Linked DNA regions of Homo sapiens. The protein of the gene in region 1 interacts with the protein of each later gene in a biochemical or structural test. Each region holds a gene or a part of one and is shown in the gene's direction. Other genes may lie near its edges.

Region 1 (8,746 bases):
ACACCTGCAATCCCAGCACTTTGGGAGGCCGAGGTGGGCGGATTACCTGAGGTCGGGAGTTCAAGACCAGCCTGACTAACATGGAGAAACCCCGTCTCTACTAAAAATACAAAATTAGCCAGGCGTGGTGGCGCGTGCCTGTAATCCCAGCTACTCGGGAGGCTGAGGCAGGAGAATCACTTGAACCCGAAAGGCAGAGGTTGCAGTGAGCCAACATGGCACCACTGCACTCCAGCCTGGGCGACAGAGCAAGACTCTGTCTCCAAAAAAAAAAAAAAAAAAAAAAGAAGAAGAAGAAGAAGAAAGAAATGGTGAAAATGGGCCGGGTGCGGTGGCTCACGCCTGTCATCCCAGCACTTTGGGAGGCCGAGGCTGGCAGATCACCTAAGGTCAGGAGTTCAAGACCAGCCTGGTCAATGTGGTGAAACCCTGTCTCTACTAAAAATACCAAAAAATTAGCTGGGCATAGTGGCACAGGCCTATAATCCCAGCTACTCGGGAGGCTGAGGCAGGAGAATCACTTGAACCTGAGAGGCAGAGGTTGCAGTGAGCCAACATGGCACCACTGCACTCCAGCCTGGGCAACAGAGCAAGACTCGAAAAAAAAGAAATGGTGAAAATTGTGAATTGTATGTTGTGCGTATTTTACTACCATTTTTTGTTTTTTCTTTTTTGAGATGAGTCTTGCTCTGTTACCCAGGCTGGAGTGCAGTGGCGTGATCTCGGCTTACTGCAGCCTCTGCCTCCCAGGTTCAAGCGATCCTCCCACCTCAGCCTCCCAAGTAGCTGAGACCACAGGTGTGTGCTACCATACCTGGCTAATTTTTGTAATTTCAGTAGAAATGGGATTTCACTGTGTTGGCCAGGCTGGTGTCAGGTGATCTGCCCACCTCGGCCTCCCAAAGTGTGAGGATTACAGGCGTCAGCCACTGCAGGCGGCCTTGACCATTTTAAGGCTCCAGGAAGAGTTCTTTGGACGCAGGTCATGGACAGAGCTCCTGATTCACCCAGAATCTGTTTTGAAAAAAGATTTAGACCACTGGCTCTCAAGGTGTGGTCCCTGGGCCAGCCACATCAGCCTCACCCTGGGAGCTTGTTAGAAATGCAGGTTCCAAAGCCAGGTGCAGTGGTTCATGCCTGTAATCCCAGTGCTTTGGGATTGAGGCTGAGGCAGGAGAATCACTTTAGCCCAGGAGTTCAAGACCAGCCTGGGCAACATAGCAAGATCCCATCTCTACAAAACAAATTAAAAATTAGTCTGGCGTGGCCAGATGCAGTGGCTCACGCCTGTAATCCCAGCACTTTGGGAGGTTGAGGCAGGTGGATCGCCTGAGGTCAGGAGTTCGAGACCAGCCTGACCATCACGGAGAAACCCTGTCTCTACTAAAAATACAAAAATTAGTCGGGCATGGTGGCGCATGCCTGTAATCCCAGCTACTTAGGAGGCTGAGGCAGGAGAATTGCTTGAACCCGGGAGGCAGAGGTTGCAGTGAGTCAAGATCTCGCCATTGCGCTCCAGCCTGGGCAGCAAGAGCGAAACTCCTCTCAAAAAAACAAAAATAGCCTGGCATGGTGGTGCACACCTGTAGTCCCAGCTACTTGGGAGGCTGAGGTGGGAGGATCGCTTGAGCCCAGAAGTTTGAAGCTGCAGTGAGCTATGATCACACCACTACAGTCCAGCCTGGGCAACAGAGCGAGACCTGGTCTCAAAACAAACAATGAAAAGTAAAAGAAATGCAGGTTCCTAGGCCCCCACCCAGACTTCACACACCAGAAACTGGGCAGAGTAGGGTGGTGGGAGGGCACAATCTGGGTGTTCATGACTCCTCCCTTCCAGGCAAACTGGGTGCCAGATAAAGTTTGGGGGAAGGGGCCAGCCACGGTGGCTCATACCTGTAATCCCAGCACTTTGAGAGGCCAAGGTGGGCGGATCACTTGAGGTCAGGAGTTCGAGACCAGCCTGGCCAACATGGAGAAACCCCATCTCTACTAAAAGTATAAAAATTAGCCAGGCGTGGTGGCATGCGCCTGTAGTCCCAGCTACTTGGGAGGCTGAGGCAGGAGAATCACCTGAACTCAGGAGGCAGAGGTTGCAGTGAGCCGAGATTGCACCACTGCACTCCAGCCTGGGCGACAGAGCGAGACTCTGTCTCAAACCAAAGAAAAGGAAAAGAAATGCAGTTTCCCAGGCTCCAACGCAGACTTCACACACCAGAAACTGGGCGGGGTGGTGGGGGTGGTAAAATCTGGGTGTTCATGACTTCCCCCTTCCAGGCAATTTGGATGCCAGATAAAGTGGAGGAAGTGCTGGAGGTTAGATCATTGATGAGGATAATGAAGAGGAAATATACTTAAAAAAAATTACTAAAACTGGCTGAACAGTCATGACTTACAGACGCAAAAGTCAACATCAAAACAAGCAGTTAAAAGCAGCCTCTTGGCCGGGCGCGGTGGGTCACGCCTGTAATCCCAGCACTTTGGGAGGCAGAGGTGGGTGGATCACCTGAGGTCAGGAGTTTGAGACCAGCCTGGCCAACATGATGAAACCCCACCTCTACTGAAAATACCAAAAAAGTAGCCAGGCGTAGTGGCACATGCCTGTAATTCCAGCTACTCGGGAGGCTGAGGCAGGAGAATCGCTTGAACCCGGGAGGCAGAGGTTGCAGTGAGCCGAGATGGCGCCACTGCACTCCAGCCCGGGAGACAGAGTGAGACTCCGTCTCAAAACACAAAAACAAACAAACAAACAAAAAACTTAAAAAAAAGAAAACTAGGGCAGGGATGGGGTGACAGGAGGGGAGAGGCAAGGGACAGAGAGGAGGGGCTGGGGTCCGGGAGAGCCACCAGCCTTCTGTGCCTTCCCCGCATCCCCCCACGCCCCTGGTTGGCTGTCCCCATTACGCAGGGTGGAAAACCGAGGCTGCCCGGCGGGGGCCGGTTGCGTGGTTTCTGGCGCCGCCTGGTGGCCATAGTGGCTACTACCGTCAGCAGGAGGTACTGCAGGCTGGAGGGACCCTAGTCCATTCATTCCAAAAACATGTATTGAGCACCTACTGTGTACCAGGCACTGTGCTAGGCCATAGGACACGGCAGGGATGAGCACGACAAAGTCCATGACCTCTGTGAGGTGGCATTTTAATATTTATTTATTTATTTTTCAGCCAGCGTCTTGCTCTGTCTCCCAAGCTGGAGTGCAGTGGCGCGATCTCGGCTCACTGCAACCTCTGCCTCTGGGGCTCAAGCGATTCTCCCGTCTCAGCCTCCTGAGTAGCTGGGATTACAGACGCATGCCACCTTGCCCGGCTAATTTTTGTATTTTTAGTAGAGATGGGGTTTCACCATGTTGGCCAGGCTGGTCTCGAACTCCTAACTCAAGCAATTCTCCCACCTCAACCTCCCAAAGTGCTGGGATTACAGGGGTGAGCCATTGAGCCCAGACTTAATTTTTTAAATTTTAATTTTAATGTACTGGTAAAGATGGGGGGGTGTCTCACTATGTTGCCCAGACTGGTCTCGAATTCCTGGCCTCAAGTGATCCTGCCACCTTGGCCTCCAAAGTACTGAGATTATAGGTGTGAGCCATCATGCCCAACCCTTCCTGGTTAATTTTATTTTATTGAGATAGGATCTTGCTCTGTCACCCAGGTTGGAGTGCAGTGGCACAGTCATAGCTCTCTGCAGCCTCAACCTCCCAGGGTCAATTGATCCTCCCACCTCAGCCTCCTGAGTTTCTGGGACTACAGGTGTGTACCACCACATCTGGCTAATTTTTAAAAAAGTTTTCTGGGCTGGGCGTGGTGGCTCACGCCTGTAATCTCAGCACTTTGAGAGGCCAAGGCAGGCGGATCACCTGAGGCCAGGAGTTCAAGACCAGCTTGGCCAATATGGTGAAACTCCGTCTCTACAAAAATACAAAAATTAGCTGGGCATGATGGCTGGTGCCTGTAATGCAATCCCAGCTACTCGGGAGGCTGAGGCAGGAGAATCACTTGAAACCGGGAGGCAAAGGTTGCAGTGGGCCGAGATCAAGCCATTGCACTCCAGCCTGGGCAACATAGCAAGACTCTGTCTCAAAAAAATAAAAAAAAAATAAAATAAAAACAAAAAACAAAACAAAACCAACAACAGCCAGCAGCAACAACAAAAAAACTTTTCTAGGCCAGGCTCGGTGGCTCACGCCTGTAATCCCAACACTTTGGGAGGCCGAGGCGGGCAGATCACTTGAGGTCAGGAGTTTGAGACCAGCCTGGCCAACATAGGAAAACCCCGTCTCTACTGAAAAAAAAAAAAAAAATTAGCTGGGCGTGGTGGTGCACGCCTGTAATCCCAGCTACTTGGGAGGCTGAGGCAGAAGAATCACTTGAACCCAGGAGGCGGAGGTTGCAGTGAGCCGAGATCGCGCCACTGCACTCCAGCCTGGGTGACAGAGGGAGACTCCATCTCAAAACAAACAACAAACAAAAGATATATAAAAATTTTTCTAGAGATGGGTTTCACCGTGTTACCCAGGCTGGTCTCAAATTCCCAGGCTCAAGTGATCCTCCCACCTCGGCCTCCCAAAGTGCTGGAATTACAGGTGTGAGCCACCACACCTGACCCTTTCTTGTTTTTTAGATGAGGACAGCAAGAAGCCCCTGTAATTTGCCCAAAGCCACACAGCGGGGAAGTGGCAGAAGCTTCTGTACGTAGGAACCCAGTCACTTCGTAGCAGAGAGGCAGACTGCGCACAGATCTGCGTGGGGAAGGGAGTGCGCCAAGCCACAGCCTGATGGGCCGGCGTGCCTGGCAGGAGGCTCAGCAAGCACAGAGACTGGGCAGCTCCAGATGCAAGAAGCAGGAGGGAGGGGGACTCCGGGAGTGCGGTCCATTCATGTCTGAATGTAGCCAACGAGGGTTTCCTAAGCACCTACCATGTGCGGACGCTTGATACCAGGGCCTCGGCGGTGAGGGCACAGGCAGGAGCAAGCTCACCTCTGGGCAAGCAGGGGTTAAGGCCAGTTGCTCCCACGTGAGGGCACCTTGCGACAGAGCCACACACCCAGTCCTCCTGCTGGCCCGCCCCTCACCCTGGTCCGTCTCCCTGTGTCTGTGGTCGTCAGTTCCACTGGCAGGGGACCTGCCTCCCTGTTGCCACCACAAGAGAGGAAAAGTTGGTCAAACAGGTGGGGAGGCCAGAGCTACAAGCCTCGGGTTCCCTCCCCACCACCCGTGCCAGGCAGGCACCCGGGCCCTGGCACCTGCTGCCTGCCCAGAGGCCACCCAGCCTCCTAGACAGGTAAGTCCCCCGCCCCACTGTGCTTTTCCACCCAGTGTGCATTGTCTGAGCTGGCCTTCCCCAGCTGAGGGTCCTTAGACTCCCCCCCAACCTCCCCCACCACGAGCTGTCTCCCCGGCTCCTCGGAAAGCAGGAAACTGACACTCCTGCGTGGGCATCTGACATAGTTTCGTAGGGATTATCTGACCGGCAGTTACTGCACCTGGCGGCCTGCCCAGGACGCTGAGCTGGAAACTTAAAAGGGTCATTGTTACCTAGGTGGCGCAGGGACCGGGGAGGCGGCAAAGGGGCACAGGTTGGTCTCTGATCCCCCTAACTGAGGAGGGGAGGGGATATCAGTCCAGACGGAGCCTGGGTTTACCTCCTGCAGCCCGAGGCTAGGAGGTGACAGGTGGGAAAGGCTGCGACCTCACTCATCTCTGAGCCTCCTGGAACTTCTTAAAAGGCTCCCAAGTTTTGAAACAACTGCGTCTCCCGCCCCCCAACCCCTCACCCTGTTCTCACCGCTGGAACCTCCAGGAGCTTTGCAGGGAGGGATTGGGGTGGCCTTTCTTTTGCTAATTTTTTTTTTGAGACGGAGTTTTGCTCTTGTTGCCCAGGCTGGAGTGCAGTGGTGCGATCTTGGCTCACTGCAACCTCTGCCTCCACCTCTGCCTCCCGAGTAGCTGGGATTACAAGCGCCCACCACTATGCCCAGCTAATTTTTGTATTTTTAGTAGAGATGGGGTTTCACCATGTTGGCCAGGCTGGTCTCGAACTCCTGACCTCAGGTGATCCAACCCCCTCGGCCTCCCAAAGTGCTGGGATTACAGGCGCAAGCCACTGCGCCCAGACTTCTTTTTCTAATCTTTACTCCTCCGAGCAAAATCTCTGTGGGATGGGGCAGAGGGGAAGGAGGAAGGAGCGCTCAGAGCCAGAGAGGGGAGGGGTCGGCAGCAAAAGTGTTTTTCTGGGTCATTTGCTCCCAAATGGGAAGACCAAGGGAGCTTCCTCGTGAGCCAAGTGTCCGATTGCATCTCAAGTCTCTCTCCAGAACCAAGAGGGTCCCCCGGGGCCGAGGAGGCATGGATGATCGCATAGTGGGGGACAGAGCGGCCCGGCATTTGGGGTCACCTTGTGGCTGTGTGGCTGCAGAGCTCCCAGGGAGCAGGCTTGCTTGAGATTCGGGAGTCCGTGGGGGTGGGCGACATGGATCCCACCTTGCCTGGGTTTTGAGAGCAAACCCGTGGACTCAGTTAGATCTGGCTTCCACACCTCCCTTCTCTCCGGGCCTCTGTTTCCTGCTCTGTAAAATGGGGATATTGAGGGCCGGGCGCGGTGGCTCACGCCTGTAATCCCAGCACTTTGGGAGGTCGAGGCGAGTGGATCACAAGGTCAGGAGTTCGAGACCAGCCTGGCCAACATGGTGGAACCCTGTCTCTACTAAAAATACAAAAAATGAGCCGAATATGGTGGCAAGCACTTGTAATCCCAGCTACTCCGGAGGCTGAGGCAGGAGAATTGCTTGAACCCAGGAGGTGGAGGTTGCAGTGAGCCGAGATTGTGCCACTGCACTCCAGCCTGGACAACAGAGTGAGACTCTGTCTCAAAAAAAAAAAAAAAAAAAGGGGTGGGGGGATATGGAGTCACCAAGGCACAGGGCTGTTGAGTGCCGGATGTAATAAAGCGGGTAACAGATTCTCGGTCATTCTGGGGTCAAGACGAGCTATCCCGGTCCGAATCGGAGTCTGGTCTCATCAGCTTCCTGGTTTGTAGAGGATGAACCCTGGCTCAGAGAAGGACAGCCGCTTACCCCGGGCCGCACAGCCAAGTAGAAATGTCAGGCGGCCAAGAGTCAAGACGCAGAGGACAGGGAGCTGGTGGCGGGGGTGGTGCTCTGGAGGCTGGCCCTGCCCCCAGCTGATGCCTCAGGCTCAGCATCTCGAGAAAGTCCTGCCCCCTGGCTTGGTGCTTCCTCGTGGCCCTGAGTCCCGGGGAAAGTCCAGGGCAGGGAGTATGGGTACTTGTTCTTCCTCTTTAGGGCTGGCCAGGGGCCAGGGGAGCTGTGTTTGCTCAGGGTGGAACCTGACACCCTTTGGAATGGATTGAGGTTAGCGGAAGCCTAGGCTGGGGGGAGGGGTCGCCCAGGGAGCGAACGGGCATTTATTGTGCACTTACTGTATGCGCGAGTGTGGGGTCACCAGGCCTTGGAGATTCAGCAGTGAGCAAGGCAGGCCAAGCTTCCTGCTCTCGTGGGGCGCATATTTTGGTGGGGAAAGACAGACATGAAACAAGAGCGCAGTAATGGAGCCAATGGCTGCACAGAGGGTAACATGCGTGAGAGGCGCTTTGTAACTTTATTTTACTTTTTATATTTTTTTGAAACGGAGTCTCGCTCTGTCGCCCAGGCTGGAGTGCGGTGGCGCGATCTCGGCTCACTGCAAGCTCCGCCTCCCGGGTTCACGCCATACTCCTGCCTCAGCCTCCCGAGTAGCTGGGACTACAGGCGCCCGCCACCACACCCGGCTAATTTTTTGTATTTTTAGTACAGACGGGGTTTCACCGTGGTAGCCAAGATGGTCTCTCCTGACCTTGTGATCCGCCCACCTCAGCCTCCCAAAGTGCTGGGATTACAGGCGTGAGCCACCATGCCCGGCCTTATTTTATTTTTTTTTGAGATGGAGTCTCGCTCTGTTGCCCAGGCTGGAGTGCAGTGGAACGATCTCCGCTCGCTGCAACCTCCACCTCCTGGGTTCAAAGCGATTCTCCTGTCTCAGCCTCCCAAGTAGCTGGGATTACAGGCGCCCACCACCACGCCCAGCTAATTTTTGTATTTTTAGTAGAGACAGGGTTTCACCGTATTGGTCAGGCTGGTCTCGAACTCCTGATCTCAGGTGATTCGCTCGCCTCGGCCTCCCAAAGTGCTGGGATTACAGGCGTGAGCCACCGCGTCCGGCCAAAATGAAGGGAGAGCTTTAAATGCTGGCCTGAAGACATTTGGCTTTATGATATTAAAGGATATTTTTTCCCAAAATAGTAAAATCATTACTCTCATACAAATACAAAATGAGGCCGGATGCGGTGGCTCACGCCTGTAATCCCAGCACTTTGGGAGGCCGAGACGGGTGGATCACGAGGTCAGGAGTTCAAGACCAGCCTGGCTAACATGGTGAAACCCTGTCTCTACTAAAAGTACAAAAAAAAAAAAAAAGGTGCTTTATGTGTCTGCTTAATTCATTAATTAATATGGGAACCGGTAAGACTTTATAGCCTATACAGAGGGGAATTAATTTGTTTCCTTTCTTTCTTTTTTTTAAAAATTGAAAATAGAAATGGGGTTTTGCTGTGTTGGCCGGCCTGGTCTCGAGCTTCTGGGCTCAAGTGATCTGCCAGCCTCAGCCACTCAAAGTGCTGGGATTTCAAGCGAGAGCCACCGACCCGGCCTCAGCATTCTTGATTGCCTGTGTGTGTGTGTTCTTTCAGTTCTCCTCT
Region 2 (6,596 bases), on another chromosome or scaffold:
GACTCTGTCTCCAAAAAAAAAAAAAAAAAAAAAAAATAATCCAAGCCAGCCTTAGGTCTTAGTCCCTTCAGCAGCTGAATGTTACCCTAAGCCAATAAGAGATTGACCTAAACACTTCAGCAACTCTAAAAATTTCAGGAGCAGTTTTTCAGAGCCTATGAAATCTGAGCCATGAACTTGGTTGTCACTAGTGTTTTATTTTATTATATTACCACCACGTTGAGTAAATGCCATATGTCATACATTTAATCCTTAGAACAGGCCACAAGGTAGATAGTAGATGCCCATTTTACGGCATCTGAGAAGACTAAGTGACCAACTTGGGACAAATAGCAAGTGAGTAAAGAGCCACAATTACAAAGTAGGTAGAGGTTTTCAAGCCATGCATTTATTTCTTTTTTACCTTTTTCCCTGTAGTCTACAAATGCGGCATTGGTAAAGTAGGAGAGTAGATACATATCAGTAAGTGCTCATCAACCAAGCACTGCAACACTGGAAGAAGTCCAAATCCTAGAAAGTTAAAAAATCATCCTGGCTGGGCACGGACTCATGCCTGTAATCCCAGCACTTTGGGAGGCTGAGGCAGGTGGATCACCTGAGGTCAAGAGTTCGAGACCAGGCCGGTCACGGTGGCTCACACCTGTAATCCCAGCACTTTGGGAGGCCAAGGTGGGCGGATCACGAGGTCAGGAGATTGAGACCATCCTGGCTAACACGGTAAAAAACTCCGTCTCTACTAAAAATACAAAAAATTAGCCAGGCGTGGTGGCGGGCGCCTGTAGTCCCAGCTACTCGGGAGGCTGAGGCAGGAGAATGGTGTGAACCGGCGAGGCAGAGCTTGCAGTGAGCCGAGATTGCACCACTGCATTCCAGCCTGGGCGACAGAGCGAGACTCTGTCTCAAAAAAAAAACAAAAAAAAAGAGTTCGAGACCAGCTTGGCCAACATAGTGAAACTCTGTTTCTACTAAAAATACAAAAATTAGCCGGGCCTGGTGGCAGACGCCTGTAATACCAACTACTTGGGAGGCTGAGGCAGGAGAATCGCTTGAACCTGGGAGGTGGAGTTTGCAGTGAACCGAGATCGCACCATTGCACTCCAGCCTGGGCGACAAGAGTGAAACTCCTTCTCAAAAAAATTTAAAAATTCTTTCCTTGCATTACTAAAAAAGATAAATAGCTTAACATAGTTTTTAAAAAATTAATTTACACAGATATCTGAGATTTACTGAAGCCCTTAAATCTTAGCATGTAAAATTTAATAAAATCAACTTTGCCTAGTAATTCTGATTTTATCCAGTAAAATTACTTGTTTAATTTTGTCTTTAATACAGTTGACACATTACTTTCTTAAAAGATTTGAGTGAAGTTGCAAGTTTTGGGGTTTATTTTTGAGACAGAGTTTACTCTTTTTGCCCAGGCTGAGTGCAATGGGATGATCTCAGCTCACTGCAACCTCCGCCTCCCAGGTTCAAGTGATTCTCCAGCCTCAGCCTCCCAAGTAGCTGGGATTACAGGCATGCGCCATCACATCCAGCTAATTTTTGTATTTTTAGTAGAGACAGGATTTCACCATGTTGGCCAGTCTGATCTTGAACTCCTGATTTCAGGTGATCCTCCTGCCTTGACCACCCAAAGTGCTGGGATTACAGGCATGAGCCACCATGTCCAGCCAGTTGCAAGTTATTAATATTTAGTTTTGATATTTTGCCCACAGTATAGACCTGATTTCGAATACTTTTTTTTTTTTTTTTTTTCCTGAGACAGAGCTCACTCTGTCACCCAGTCTGGAGTGCAGTGGCACTATCTCAGCTCACTCCAACCTCTGCAGGTTCAAGTGATCCTCCTGCCTCAGCCTCCCGAGGAGCTGGGACCACAGGCATAAGCCACCACGCCTGGCTAATTTTTTGTAGAGACAGTTTCACCATGTTGCCCAGGCTGGTCTCAAACTCCTGAGCTCAAGCAATCCTCTCGCCTGAGATTCCCAAAGTGCTGGGATTACAGGCATGAGCCACTGCACCCAGCAGGTTTTGAATATTCTTTATTGCACATTCATTTAGAAATTCCACCATTCTCACGGTTTAGAAAACCTGTCTGATTCCCCAGCACCTCAGGACCTCCAAGCTGCACATGGACACAGATCTCAGGAGCGTTAGTGCCTCCTAGCTCGGCTTCTGATTGAGTCGGTCGAGGGCCAAGTGCCTGTGGGCTTTGGTTGCCCACTGAAGTTTGACCTCATTTAGAGGATTCTTCTGGCACTGACTTTTCAAGGGACTGAAACAGTTACCCCTACAGATGGTGAAACCTCCTGTAAATCATTTTTTAAGGTCTTTTCTTCCCTTACCAGTCCAAAATGTTTCTAGTAATATCGTGGCATTTTTAGATATGCAGCTTTAGAGTGAAAAAACCCTGAAGTTTCACTGGCTTTGTGCCGTTTTGAGGAACTATGCATGACTGAGTATATAATAAAAGTAGTCATTTAGAAACCTATTTAGATGATCAAAGATAAAGTGGAAGGTTTTGAATATATTACAAAATTTTAGAGATGCTACACTCGTATATATTTATATGTAGATAACAGCTTTATTGAGATATAATTCACTTACCATACAATTCACCCATTTAAAGACTACACTTATTTTTGACAGATCACAGTGCTGATAGCTTAATAATGCAATGGGAACTCTGTATAATGGTGGTATTTGCAGTAAGACTAACACCAGATTCAGTTCTATCTGCCTTTTTCTGTATATTACGTTTTCATGAATAGGACATGATATGACATCCAATTCCATTTAATACTAAATAGTGAAATAAGGTTCTACTTGTATTAAAAGCAGTGTATCAGTACATTTCTACTAGTATGTTATTTAGATTATCCATAATTATAGTTACTATTCAACCATTATTATTCAAACAGCATATCTTACTTTTTTCCTAATTTAAAACATTACCTAGAAAAAACTTAATTGGTAGTTTTTAAAGTTACTCTTTTAATATGCACACCAGACAGATGTTAGAGGTTTTAATATCAATTTAATATAAACTGTGTTTTACCCTGGATTAAACTGAAATGTTTCTTGTTTGTAGGGAGCAGCTGCAGATGACGGCCGATTAAAACGAGGGGATCAGATTTTAGCTGTTAATGGCGAGACCCTGGAAGGTGTTACTCATGAGCAAGCAGTCGCCATTCTAAAACACCAGAGAGGGACTGTAACCTTAACTGTGCTGTCATGAGCCTCGGGCCTGATCACAAGATAGATGTTGTTGTTTAGAATATCCACAGGCAGATGAAGTTCTGAGTGGGTATGAAAAGCACCCTCAACTAAAATGCACCTTCATTCTTATTTCTTGCCCTCTCTGCTCAGGAGAAATGGCTGAGGTTTCATGTGAATTTCCCAAATCAACAATCATCTCCTAATGTTTCCCAGTTCCTGTCACCTGTTGGCGAGGTTGATTTCTAAAACTTAAATGAGTCTACCTGTTTTGCATTTAATTTCAGTGTTCCGATTTCTTTTTTTTTTTTTTTTTTTTTTTTTGAGACGGAGTCTCACTCTGTCACCCAGGCTGGAGTGCAATGGCGCAATCTTGGCTCACTGCAACCTCGGCCTCCCAGGTTGGAGCGATTCTCCTGCCTCAGCCTCCCGAGTAGCTGGGATTACAGGCATGCATCACCACACTGGGTTTATTTTTGTTTTTTTAGTAGAGATGGAGCTTCCCCATGTGGGCCAGGCTGGTCTTGAACTTCTGACCTCAGGTGATCTGCCTGCCTTGGCCTCCCAAAGTGCTGGGATTCCAGGCGTGAGCCACTGCGCCCAGCCCAGTATTCTGATTTTAACCAACTGGTTCTGATTATATTTACCAAAACTGGAGTTAACTTCTCTTTCCTTATACTCTTCTCTCCCTATCCCCTACTCACACCGAGGCTTAACAGCAACCTCAGATCTCATCCAATGGACAGAAACAAATGTTAAGCAACTTGTCATCTCACTCATGATTTACTTATGCTAATTGTCTCTTCAAGTAAGCAAGAAAACATTAGCAGTGTAATTAATTTACCAGTGATCCCCAAGATGAAATACCAGATTCTCCTATGGGAAATTACTGTGCTGTCTTCTGTATGACTTATGGTCAAATAAGTCTCAAATTCATTTCTCTGGATAGATCTTTATATGCTAGTCATTGGTGATTTTGATGAGTCAATTTACAGACTGTAATCTTCTAAAAATTCTGAAAGACTAATTGTTTTCTGTGCCATATAAATGCATACCACTGAGCAAATGAACCTTATTCTCAGCAGGAACAACTAGCATACATGTTCTGAATTCTAACAGTGCTAAATTACATTCAAGTCCAGGAAGATCACCTGGAATTAATGGCATTTCAGTTGGCAGGCATCATTCCCACCCCTCGGTCTTAGGAAAAGGAGGTAGAAGCCCCAGAACCACACGGCAGAGATCAGCAAGTTTTGTCTCAAGTCAGACAAGGTCTAGGTGGCCTTGGCCTTATGCAAAGTGGGTGACATATTTGATTATATTTCCCTTTACCTCCATAGTAGTCAGGCCAGCAGCATGGACTGCAAGAACCTAAGGGAGCAACATACTTAGCTGCAAAGTGAGCAAATGAATTGAGCCTAGGAATATGTGATGAAAATGCATGGCTGATGTTTCCTGATCTCCAAGGAGACTCCCATTTGCTGAAGTTTTGCATGCTAAGAAATCAACTACAGCAGAAAATACAAGAATACCTTTAAGTTGATTATTGGCAATCTTATTCATATATTAGCAAGAAAAAGGGAGAGATGCTTACTGGTGGATGCTATAGAGTCCTCTGTTTTTAAAAGTACCATGGCCGGGTGCAGTGGCTCACGCCTGTAATCCCAGCACTTTGGGAGGCCAGGGCAGGCGAATCATGAGGTCAGGAGTTCGAGACCAGCCTGGCCAATATGGTGAAACCCTGTCTCTACTAAAAATACAAAAATTAGCTGGGTGCAGTGGCAGGCGCCTGTAATCCCAGCTACTCCGGAGGTTGAAGCAGGAAAATTGCTTGAACCTGGGAGGTGGAGGTTGCAGTGAGCCAAGTTCGTGCCACTCCACTCCAGCCTGGGTGACAGAGCAAGACTCTGTCTCGAAAAAGAAAAAAAACCATGAAGGATGAGTACTAGAGTCAGTAATAGAAGTAGTTCAGCATTATTTAACTACAACACAATGCTGCAAATATTTCACAGTAATTATCAAAATTTAATGGGCTCTAATTTAAAATGTTATTTAATAAGTATAGATTTTAATTGAGAATTATCTTTGAGTAGATGTAATCACAAAGTGCATTAACTCTTGTTGGAATATTTTATGGCTATTCCAAAGTATAGAGTGCCTAAATTTTGTGTTGAAAATGTCTTTCATGACGGTATTAAGTTTTCTGAAATTACACATGGCTTTTAAAATTTCTAATGTATCCAAGATGTGCAATGTTGTTAGGATCTCATTCTTCAGTGCATGAAAAGCTACTACCCTCAGAACATTTTGTGTTAATTGTACCTGCAAGAACACCTCAGGCAAGCCAAGAAGAAATGAAACCCAAATAAAACTTGAAAATGCACCTTAAAAATATATATACATATAATAGTTTTGAAATGGGATTCTGCTTTATTTTGATGGAATGGCCATTAAATACACATTTTGAGATAATACATTGTTGTGGTGTTTCTTTATACATTATCCTTTTAGGTCGTGCTAGTAAAAGTATATTGATGAAGGAATTATGATGCTTTATACTTCTTACTGCACTAAATTGATAGAACTAGTACTTGTCATAATCGGTTCTGTCTCCGCTCACATGACTAATACGTAATTGCCTTTCCAAAAAGATATTTTTGCCTCAGAACTTACTGACAAGCTGAGAGGCTATGAAGATGGAAATTTGTGAAAGAAGTAGTGCTCTTATATTTGGCCTCATCATTTGGGCCATTTCAGTATAGTAATGATATCACTAATCGGAATTAGCATGAGAGGGAAGTAAGCCAGGAAGAATAAAACTGCTGAATGTTTGTATGTGTAAGATATTTCCAAAGATTCTAAATAAATGTAGTTGCCTACAGAGCAAATGGAGTTTTATTATATATGAAAAAGTGTACTTTCTGGATCTAATTGTGCTTTTTCTTCAGCATTTTCTTCCCTAATAGAAAAAAAAAAAAAGTCCAACTTTTCACAAGGTTTTTTGGTGTCCTGTTAAAATCTGGAATCCATGGTGGCTCACGCCTGTAATCCCAACACGTTAGGAGGCCGAGGCAGATGGATCACCTAGGTCAGGAGTTCAAGACCAGCCTGGCCAACATGGCAAAACCCTGTCTCTACTAAAAATACAAAAATTAGGATGGGCGCAGTGGCTCAGGATCCATGCCGCCATGCCCAGCCAACCTCTAATGTTTCTTTCCTGGCCCTTTCATGCATGTGCAGGTGAGTATTTGACAAAGAGGCGATCTCCATGGCTCTGTCAACCTACAGCTCCCTCCTTTCCAGACACTACATGTTCTAGCCAACTTGGCTGGCCTCCCTGAACGTGAATCTCTTTCTCCTCTACTCGTGGACTCTGTGTGAGT

Evidence for each region. Proteins that work in one complex are often made in the same cells at the same time.
Region 2: the proteins of TJP3 (region 1) and PATJ form a complex in vitro, tested with the Homo sapiens proteins (2 studies listed by BioGRID and IntAct, with this or other methods).

What each region holds. Positions count from the first base shown.
Region 1 is NC_000019.10:3,703,287-3,712,032, forward strand, and holds the start of TJP3 (tight junction protein ZO-3), read left to right. Parts: upstream 1-5,097; 5' UTR 5,098-5,275; intron 5,276-8,746. UniProt on the Homo sapiens protein: TJP1, TJP2, and TJP3 are closely related scaffolding proteins that link tight junction (TJ) transmembrane proteins such as claudins, junctional adhesion molecules, and occludin to the actin cytoskeleton.
Region 2 is NC_000001.11:62,157,820-62,164,415, forward strand, and holds the end of PATJ (inaD-like protein), read left to right. Parts: intron 1-3,088; coding exon 3,089-3,235; 3' UTR 3,236-6,096; downstream 6,097-6,596.